Regions from separate parts of the Homo sapiens genome. Here region 1 is linked to region 2. Evidence: fine-mapped expression QTL. A gene starts in region 2. The other region holds a variant in brackets. All regions are shown on one strand. Distances are from middle to middle.

The links. PIP is the estimated chance that this variant, and not a neighbour inherited with it, causes the effect.
Region 1: its variant is the best candidate, but not a certain one, in a credible set for the expression of MINDY2 in whole blood (INTERVAL, PIP 0.79).

Annotation. Positions count from the first base shown.
Region 1 is chr15:59,057,342-59,061,734 of GRCh38, forward strand. It overlaps RNF111 (ring finger protein 111), which reads left to right. Exons shown (of 14, transcript NM_017610.8): 5 at 1,015-1,209. Among named protein-coding and RNA genes, the nearest start is that of CCNB2, 46 kb to the right of the region's middle. The variant C/G (reference allele first, on the strand shown) is at 2,478.
Region 2 is chr15:58,768,613-58,773,005 of GRCh38, forward strand. It overlaps MINDY2 (MINDY lysine 48 deubiquitinase 2), which reads left to right and starts at 2,690. Exons shown (of 9, transcript NM_001040450.3): 1 at 2,690-3,623. The coding sequence starts at 2,784. MINDY2-DT (MINDY2 divergent transcript) reads right to left here and starts at 2,362. Exons shown (of 2, transcript NR_135474.1): 1 at 1,775-2,362; 2 at 1-267. RefSeq lists an enhancer at 1,627-2,552 and a silencer at 2,365-2,644.

The DNA.
Region 1 (4,393 bases), 290 kb after region 2:
TGCATATACAAGCATTTGGACATACTAGCATTCAAAGTGTCCCATATAGATTCACAGGTACTATTTGTGCCTAAGGAATTAGCTTACCTTACTGCATTGTATAGAAAGTCAACCCTCTCATTCCATAGCACATTAAGAGACCCCCCTTCTTTTCAGATTTAATTGTCGTGACTATGCTTTGGATGGATTTATTCCTACCGTTCTCAATTTTAAGCAACCATTTTAAAATTAGTTCTTTGAAACTTAACTCACTCATAAGTTGAAGTCTACCTGAAATTTCTTTTACTTTCTGATAGAAAAATGTTAATTTTTATTAGAAAGCACTGATGAGTATTAATATTTACAAAATTTTCTTTGGAAAACATATAAAAAGGCATGGAAAGGAGATTAAAACAGTTATTGGAAATCATAGCTAATGCTAAGTGATTACTCTCTGTAAGGCATCATACGAAGTATGTGATCTCAGTTCATCCTAATGACAGTTCTATGAAGAAAATTCTGATGCTTTCCCAGTTCTACAGATGAGGAAATGGAGAATGGTTAAATAACTTATTTATATTCATACTGTCAGTGGTGAAATCAGTATTGCTATCCAGGCAGTCTTACCCTAGAATCCATATTGTGTCAGACAGTGTGGTTTGTAACACTGTTCTGGCAGCTCGTGACCATGTGTACGTGCATAGTAAGGAACTTTTATTTCCTTTTACTGTTTTCTTCTTTGTGATAGATCAGACAACTTATTTAGAAGCTACCTGAAAAACTGTTAAATCACCTAAATTATTGGAATAAGCATATCGGTGTTGGATTTTTTTAAAATGCAGTAATATTTTGGTAACACGTCTGTTCGATATTGCAGTTTAGCTTTGTGAACGCTTTCTTTACCAAATGTTATTAGAGAGCTTGTATTTTTAAAGTTTTTTTATTTATTAATTATAAACACATTAGCTTACATTAAAATATAACCCTTTATCTAATTTGTTTTGAAATGCTAAGTTGACATTTTGTATTTTGTAGAACCTACTGTAGTACCAACCACTTCTGCAAGAATGGAATCACAAGCTACTAGCGCTTCCATTAACAATTCAAATCCATCTACCTCTGAGCAGGCCTCTGATACTGCTTCAGCTGTCACCAGTAGCCAACCTTCCACAGTGTCAGAGACTTCAGCTACTCTTACAAGCAATAGTACCACTGGCACTTCTATAGGAGGTATGTAAAAAAGTGGGGGAGGGGAGACTTTTTGTCATTACTTTCGTTAGGAAAAGTATTATTGTTTTTAAGTCTAAGATTTTAGCTATGTTAATAAGCGGGTATTCTTACATTATAATAAACTTCATATGTTATCAAGGTAGTCTTTATTATAATTAGGCTGATTTCATATTTGAGTTTGTGTGCTATATGTAACCAGAGTATTATAGCTCAAATAAGAGAGCTTGGGGAGAAGCAAATGGCTGACACCAAAAGCATGAGCAACAAAAGCAAAAGTAGATAAGTTGGACTTCATCAAAATTTAGAACTTTCGTGCATTAAAGGATATTATCAAGACAGTGAAAGACAGCCTACAGAATGGGGGGAAGAAAAATATTGCAAATCCTTTATCTGATAAGCACTTTAGAATCCAGAATCTACAAAGCACTCTTAAAACTGCCCAACAGGCCGGGTGTGATGGCTCATGCTTGTAATTCCAGTACTTTGAGGGGTTGAGGGTGGAGGATCACTTGAGACCAGGAGTTCAAGACCAGCCTGGGCAACATGGTGAAACCCTATCTCTATTTATATTTAAAAAATAAAAAAGTAAAAAGAAACAAACAAAAAGCCCCAACCCAACAGAAAGACAACCCAATTTTAAAATGAGAAAAGATTTGAATAGATATTTCTGAAGAAGTTATGCAAATGACCAAGAAGCACAAGATGCTCAACATCACTAATCATTAGGGAAATGCAAATGAAAACCACAATGAGATACCACTTTGCACCAACTAGGGTGTCTATAACACAAACAAAAATAGAAAATCACCAGCGTTGGCAAGGATGTAGAGAAATTGGAACCCTTGCGAATTGCTGGTAGGAATGCAAAATGGTGCAACTGCTGAGAAAAACACTTTGATGGTTCCTCAGAAAGTTAAAATAGAGTTACCATTGGATGCACTAAGTCTACTCCTTAGTTATCTTCCCAAAATAATTGAGAATGGGGATGGGAGTTTTTAAAATTTTGGTGATATCCATTTTCTGGGGTTTTTTGGTTATGGTTTGGTCTGTTGGTGTCATATCTAAGAAACCGTTGCCTAATCCAGGGTCACAAAAATTTATTCTGGAGCTTTCTTTAGTTTTAGCTCTTATCTCAAGCTAGTTCTTACGTTTCAATTAGCAGTGATATCTCTGGCTCTCTCTTATATCCTTTGTTTAACTGAGCCTTAAACTAACTTTCTTTCATTTTTGGATAATGGTACAGAGATAGGAACTTGCTAACTGCTTAC[C/G]AATAGGGACACTGTAGACCCTGTAGCTTGTGGATTGACTAAATCACCATTAATAATGAAACCATCTTATATTTTCTATCCCTTTTTGCTTTTAATAATATCTCATTTAATTCTTTTAATATTCATGTAATTTACATCTAGCAGATTAGAAAACTACATGTGGCTGGATCAGGAAGTATTCTCTCCCCTGGAAAACTGAGGGCAGAATTGAGAAACATTCTCAAGGAGATTTCCCAGGAGTATCTTTTTTGTTTTTTTGGCCCAGGCCAGTCTTGAAGTTCCAGGCTCAGGTGATCCTCCTACCTCAGTCTCTCAAGTAGCTAGGACTACAGGTGTGAACCACTGTACCCAGGGGTGTCTTTTAAAAACATTCTCTGAAAAAATGTAGGCAGAAATGAAATGGGCTTTTATTTCATTTGTTGAGTACATACTCTTTTCTTAGCTTGTTACTTGGGTATCTTATATGTTATTGTATATATTTTAATTCTTAAAAAAAAAAAAATCCTTGACATGGTGAGACTCACACCTGTAATCCCAGCTCTTTGGGAGGCCAGGGACGCAGATCACTCGAGGCCAGGAGTTCAAGACCAGCCTAGGCAACGTGGTGAAACCTTGTCTCTTTTGAAGAAAAAAACAAAACAAAACAAAAAAACAGAAACTTGCAGAAATTAGTGAGGCTTGGTGACACACACCTTTAGTGCCAGCTACTCAGAGACTGAGTCAGGAGAATCATGTGATCCTGACAAGTTGAGGCTACAGTGATCCTCGAGGGCACCACTACACTCCAGCCCAGATGACAGAGTAAGACCCTGTTTTAAAAAATAAATTATTGATGTTGGCATTTCTCTTACCATTTCAGAAATGAAGAAACCTGAGAAGTTAAGTACCTTGACAAAACTGTAATAATTTTTGAGGCAGGGATTTGACTTCTCATTGACTCCTGTCTCCTGTTGTAGCTTTATGTAGCATTATTATTATTATTATTATTATTTTTTTTTTTGTGAGACAGGTCTGACTCTGTTGCCCAGGCCTGTGTGCAGTGGCACAATCTTGTCTCACTGCAATCTCCACCTCCCAGGCTCAAGTGATCCTCCCGAGTAGATGGGGGACCACAGGCATGACCACCACGTCCGGCTAATTTTTGTATTTTAGTAGAGATGGGGTTTTGCCATGTTGCCGTGTTGCCCACACTGGCCTCAGTCTCCTGGGCTCGAGCGATCCACCTGCCTCAGCCTCCAGAAGTGCTGGGATTACAGGTGTGAACTACCACCCTCGGCCTATGTGTAGCATTATTCTTACGTACATTTTATGTGATACAGTCCCAACTTTATTTCAGAATATTCCAAAAACTTTTATATATAAATCTTTGTTCATTCACAAATCAGATTTAATTTCTGAGCATCTTGGCTACAGTCCTAAATGGGCCTCTCTTAAGGTCAATTTCCTTCCAGGACCCTATGGAACATTAGTTCAACTATGTTCTCCACAACCCGTCCTTATCTTGTACCTTTTTGAATATTTCCAACCCTCACATTCAAGCCATCTAGCTTCACACTTATCCAAGTTCCTCCGTAAATTTATGGTTTCGAATCCTGGGCTTTCTGTAGGAAATCACCATTGTCTTGATCAGTTCCCTTTCGTTCCTCTAAGTGCCTATTTCAAAACACTCTCCTTTTCCTCAAGGTTTTCATTCCCCAGGGGAAATTTTAAAAAAATGAATAAATGAAAGTTCTTAAGCATGAACTCCTGCAACTTCCAATGCCTCCATATAAACTTTTGTGGCTCTCTACCTGTCCTCCTCTACTAATTCCTAGTCTCCTAACTCCTTCCTTTCCCTTCCAGTTCCTTTATCTGTGCTCTACCTCTTATCCTTTCCTTTGTCCTTAACCTTGCTTTAACTGTTATCTTCCTTGTGT
Region 2 (4,393 bases):
ACTGCTCCACCAGCTTCTTGTGGAAGGCTGGATATTATCCAGGCCTGCCTGCAGTCCTGGGGCCTAAATCCCTCCCTGTGGTGCTGTGCTTCAATGGTCACGTTCCTTGTCCACTTTCATGCTCCTCCCATACTCCTGGTTCCTCTTTGAAGCTCGTAGTAGATAGCGGTAGAAGAAACAGTGAAAGTCTTAAAGTCTTTGATCTTTCTTGTAAGTGCAGAGAAGAAAATGCTGACGTATGCTGCCTTCTCTCTCTGCTTCAGCTACCTAAAAGAGAAGGCCCCCGCCATCCTGTAATCACGTGACTTGCTTCATCTTGTCAATCACTTAAAAGATTCACCCTCCTTACCCTGCCCCCTTGTCTTGTATGCAATAAATATCAGCGAGCCCAGCCGTTCGGGGCCACTACCGGTCTCCGCATCTTTACGGTAGCGGTCCGCCGGGCCTAGCTGTTTTCTCTTTATCTCTCTGTCTTGTGTCTTTATTTATTACAATCTCTCGTCTCTGAACACGGGGAGAACACCCGCTAAGCCCCGTAAGGCTGGACCCTACAGTTGGACATATACCATAGTATCATGTCAATGCGGATCACAAGGTCAGAAGTTAGAGACCAGCCTGGCCAAGGTAGTGAAACCTCGTCTTTACTAAAAATACAAAAAAAATTAGCTGGACCTGGTGGCGTGCGCCTGTAGTCCCAGCTACTTGGGAGGCTGAGGCAGGAGAATCACTTGAACCCGGGAGGTGGAGGTTGCAATGAGCTGAGATGGCGCCACTGTACTATAGCCTGGGTGACAAAGCGAGACTGCGTCTCAAGTGGGAAAAAAAAAAAAAAAAAAAAAAAAAGGGGCACAGTCTTCTGCATTCTCAGGTAAACAAGAATATAAGTATCCAACATTCATGTATTATATGTAATACATATTATGTGTGGCCGGGCATGGTGGCTCACGCCTGTAATCCTAGCACTTTGGGGGCCGAGGTGGGCAGATCACGAGGTCAGGAGATCAAGACCATCCTGGCTAACACGGTGAAACCCCGTCTCTACTAAAAATACAAAAAGTTAGCTGGGCGTGGTGGCGGGCGCCTGTAGTCCCAGCTACTCAGGAGGCTGAGGCAGGAGAATGGCGTGAACCCGGGAGGCGGAGCTTGCAGTGAGCCGAGATCGCGCCACTGCACGCCAGCCTGGGCGACAGAGCAAGACTCCGTCTCAAAAACAACAACAACAACAAATTAGCCAGGCATGGTGGCGGGCGCCTATAGTCCCAGCTACTCGGGAGGCTGAGGCAGGAGAATCGCTTGAACCCGGGAGGCGGAGGTTGCAGTGAGCCAAGATCGTGCCACTGCACTCCAGCCTGGGCGACAGAGAGAGACTCCGTTTCAAAAAAAAAAAAAAACAAAAGCAAAAACAAAAACAAAAAAACATATAAGTATGTATTAAAAAATAGCAATAAGAAAAAAAAAGACAGTAAGCTCCATGAAGATATAAGCTCCGTGATCCACTATGGCATCTCCAGTGACAGACAGCATCCAGCAACTTACTTGGTACTAAAATGTATTAAAGGAATGAATGAAATACTACTTTGCAATCTTGTCTGCCTTCTCTAACCAACAGAGGTGCAAAAATATCACATTCTAATTATGTATCAGGTATTTATATGTCTGCGAAGGAAGACCTGTCTCGTTAATTTTTTATCCCCAACAGCCTAGAAAATGTTGAAAGAAAAAAGATGGGGGAAAAAGCCCTTTTCTGTAACAAGTTAGAATAGGACCCACATACATTTTGTTACTAACAAAACGTCCAGCTTGTCTTTCTTCTTTGAAAACTGCATGGCCTTAAGAGGAGTCCATTCTAATTAGGAAAAAAGTCACCTTTTCAGAAGCAGGCGCTTCCCACTCCATGCAAAGTGAAGCCAAGTTAGCAAAACCGCAAAGACTTGGCTAATTCAAATACAAGCTAATTTATTATTATTGGCGCAAATTAGCCACTTTCTTTTGCTACGCATGTCAATGTCCACAATCATACCGACCCTTTCCTGTAGGGCGAATGTCTCACCAGTAGCTGGTGAGAAGCACAGCTCTTCTCAGCCAAAACCGACAGAGACTGGAATTTGTGCAGTGCAGTAATCCAAAGCCGTCGAGTAGATATGCCTGCTTTAAAATCTGCATCTCGTAAGAAATGCCTTAATTTTCCATATTAGGAGCTGAGAAACCAAGTCCCCTGAGCCCTTCAGGGACAAGTTCTTTTCCAAATACTACAACCACCTCCAACCACCCAACAATGCCTCAGGCCGAGGGTGGGCCACACGCGACCCAGCGCTAAAGGGTCACAGCCAAGCTGTCCGCCTCCTGCCTTCCCTTTAAAGAAGCCGCACACAAGGGAGCTGCCCGGGAGTTCAACTTCCGGCCACATAGTGAGAGGATGTTTTCCTACTGGAGCTGAGCCGCGGGGGCGCGCCCCCCGGCCGCGCCCTCCTAGCCACGCCCTCCACGCCCGGCCTTCCGAGAGCGAGCTCGGTCGGACGCACGGAAAGGGCTGGGCCACGTGGGCGGCTGCTGAGTGGTTCGCCTTCGCCTCTCAGCGCGCAGTCAGGCGGAGGCAAGCTCAGAGCGCACGGACAGAGCGGTAGCGCGCGCCCGCGCGCGTTCTTAGTACTCTCCCCGGTGACGTGCCTGACCGAGGCCGCGCCAGGGCGCTGTTGCTGCCAATACAGCTGTCATGGCGTCCAAGGCGCTGGCTGCGGAGAAGTGGCCGCGGTCTCCATAGAGCTGGGGGCGGGCGGCCCGGTATGGAGAGCAGCCCCGAGAGCCTGCAGCCGCTAGAACACGGGGTGGCGGCCGGGCCAGCGTCAGGGACAGGTTCTTCGCAGGAAGGGCTACAGGAGACCAGGCTCGCCGCTGGTGATGGTCCTGGGGTATGGGCGGCGGAGACCAGCGGCGGGAATGGGCTGGGGGCGGCGGCCGCCAGGAGGAGCCTCCCGGACTCGGCTTCTCCCGCGGGCTCTCCTGAGGTTCCCGGACCCTGCAGCTCCTCCGCGGGTTTGGACTTGAAGGACAGTGGTTTGGAGAGTCCTGCTGCCGCCGAGGCGCCTCTGAGAGGGCAGTACAAGGTGACCGCCTCCCCGGAGACAGCCGTGGCCGGAGTGGGTCATGAGTTGGGTACCGCCGGAGACGCGGGAGCCCGCCCGGATCTCGCCGGCACCTGCCAAGCAGAACTGACCGCCGCCGGCTCCGAAGAGCCCAGCAGCGCCGGCGGCCTCAGCAGCAGTTGCAGCGACCCGAGCCCTCCTGGGGAATCTCCGAGCCTGGACTCTCTGGAGTCGTTCTCTAACCTGCATTCTTTTCCCAGTAGCTGCGAGTTCAATAGTGAGGAGGGAGCGGAGAACAGGGTCCCTGAGGAGGAGGAGGGCGCGGCGGTGTTGCCCGGGGCTGTTCCTCTGTGCAAGGAGGAGGAGGGGGAGGAGACCGCTCAGGTGCTGGCGGCCTCCAAGGAACGCTTCCCGGGACAATCTGTGTATCACATCAAGTGGATCCAGTGGAAGGAAGAGAACACACCCATCATCACCCAGAATGAGAACGGACCCTGCCCCTTGCTGGCCATCCTCAATGTTTTGCTCCTGGCCTGGAAGGTACATTCTGCAGCTTTCTACTTCCTACAGCTTTTGGGGTGGAGGAAAACGGGGTGAGGGAGCTGCTGCATGTCAGGTGATGGCTTCCTTTCTTTCCTCATTCATCAGTCCCCTTCTTACATGAAATTCATTCCAAGACTTCCATGTTGAAGGAATATTCCTTTATACATATATCGAAAAGAATTGCCCCTAACCTCAGTCTTCTCTTGTAGTGTTTAAGAGTTCAACATTCAATTGTGGTTGATACACTTAGAAACAAGAAGGACTTAGAGCATCTTAAATCTTATGATTATTTTAAACTATAATTTCCTACATTTTCTTACTGACCTTATCACATATGCAAAAAAGTGAAGAATTGGAGAAAGTAATCTTCAGAAGTTACCATCAATCCGTGATATCATGGACTAAGTTTTCATGGTTATATTTAGTTTGATTTCCAACTAATGCCCCATTTGTGTGTAGATACTTAAGAGAATGGTGATGGGGAAGATGTGGCTCTTTAGACAAATTCCATTTAAGGAAAAGCATTGGTCTGAGACCCAATTACCGTAACTTCTTGGTTTTCAAAGATTGTTTTCATTTTATGCATGATTTTTACTTGCCTCATTTCTTTGGCTCTCCTTAAATGGTTTGGCATTATTACCAGTAACCATGCATCCGAATGTGTTAAGGGAGCTAAAACTCTAAAGAACTAAAATAAGAAAAGGTATGTCTAAGGTGAAGGAGCAAAAAAGGGAAAGACCCTTAAAAATAGGTATGTTGAGGACTCA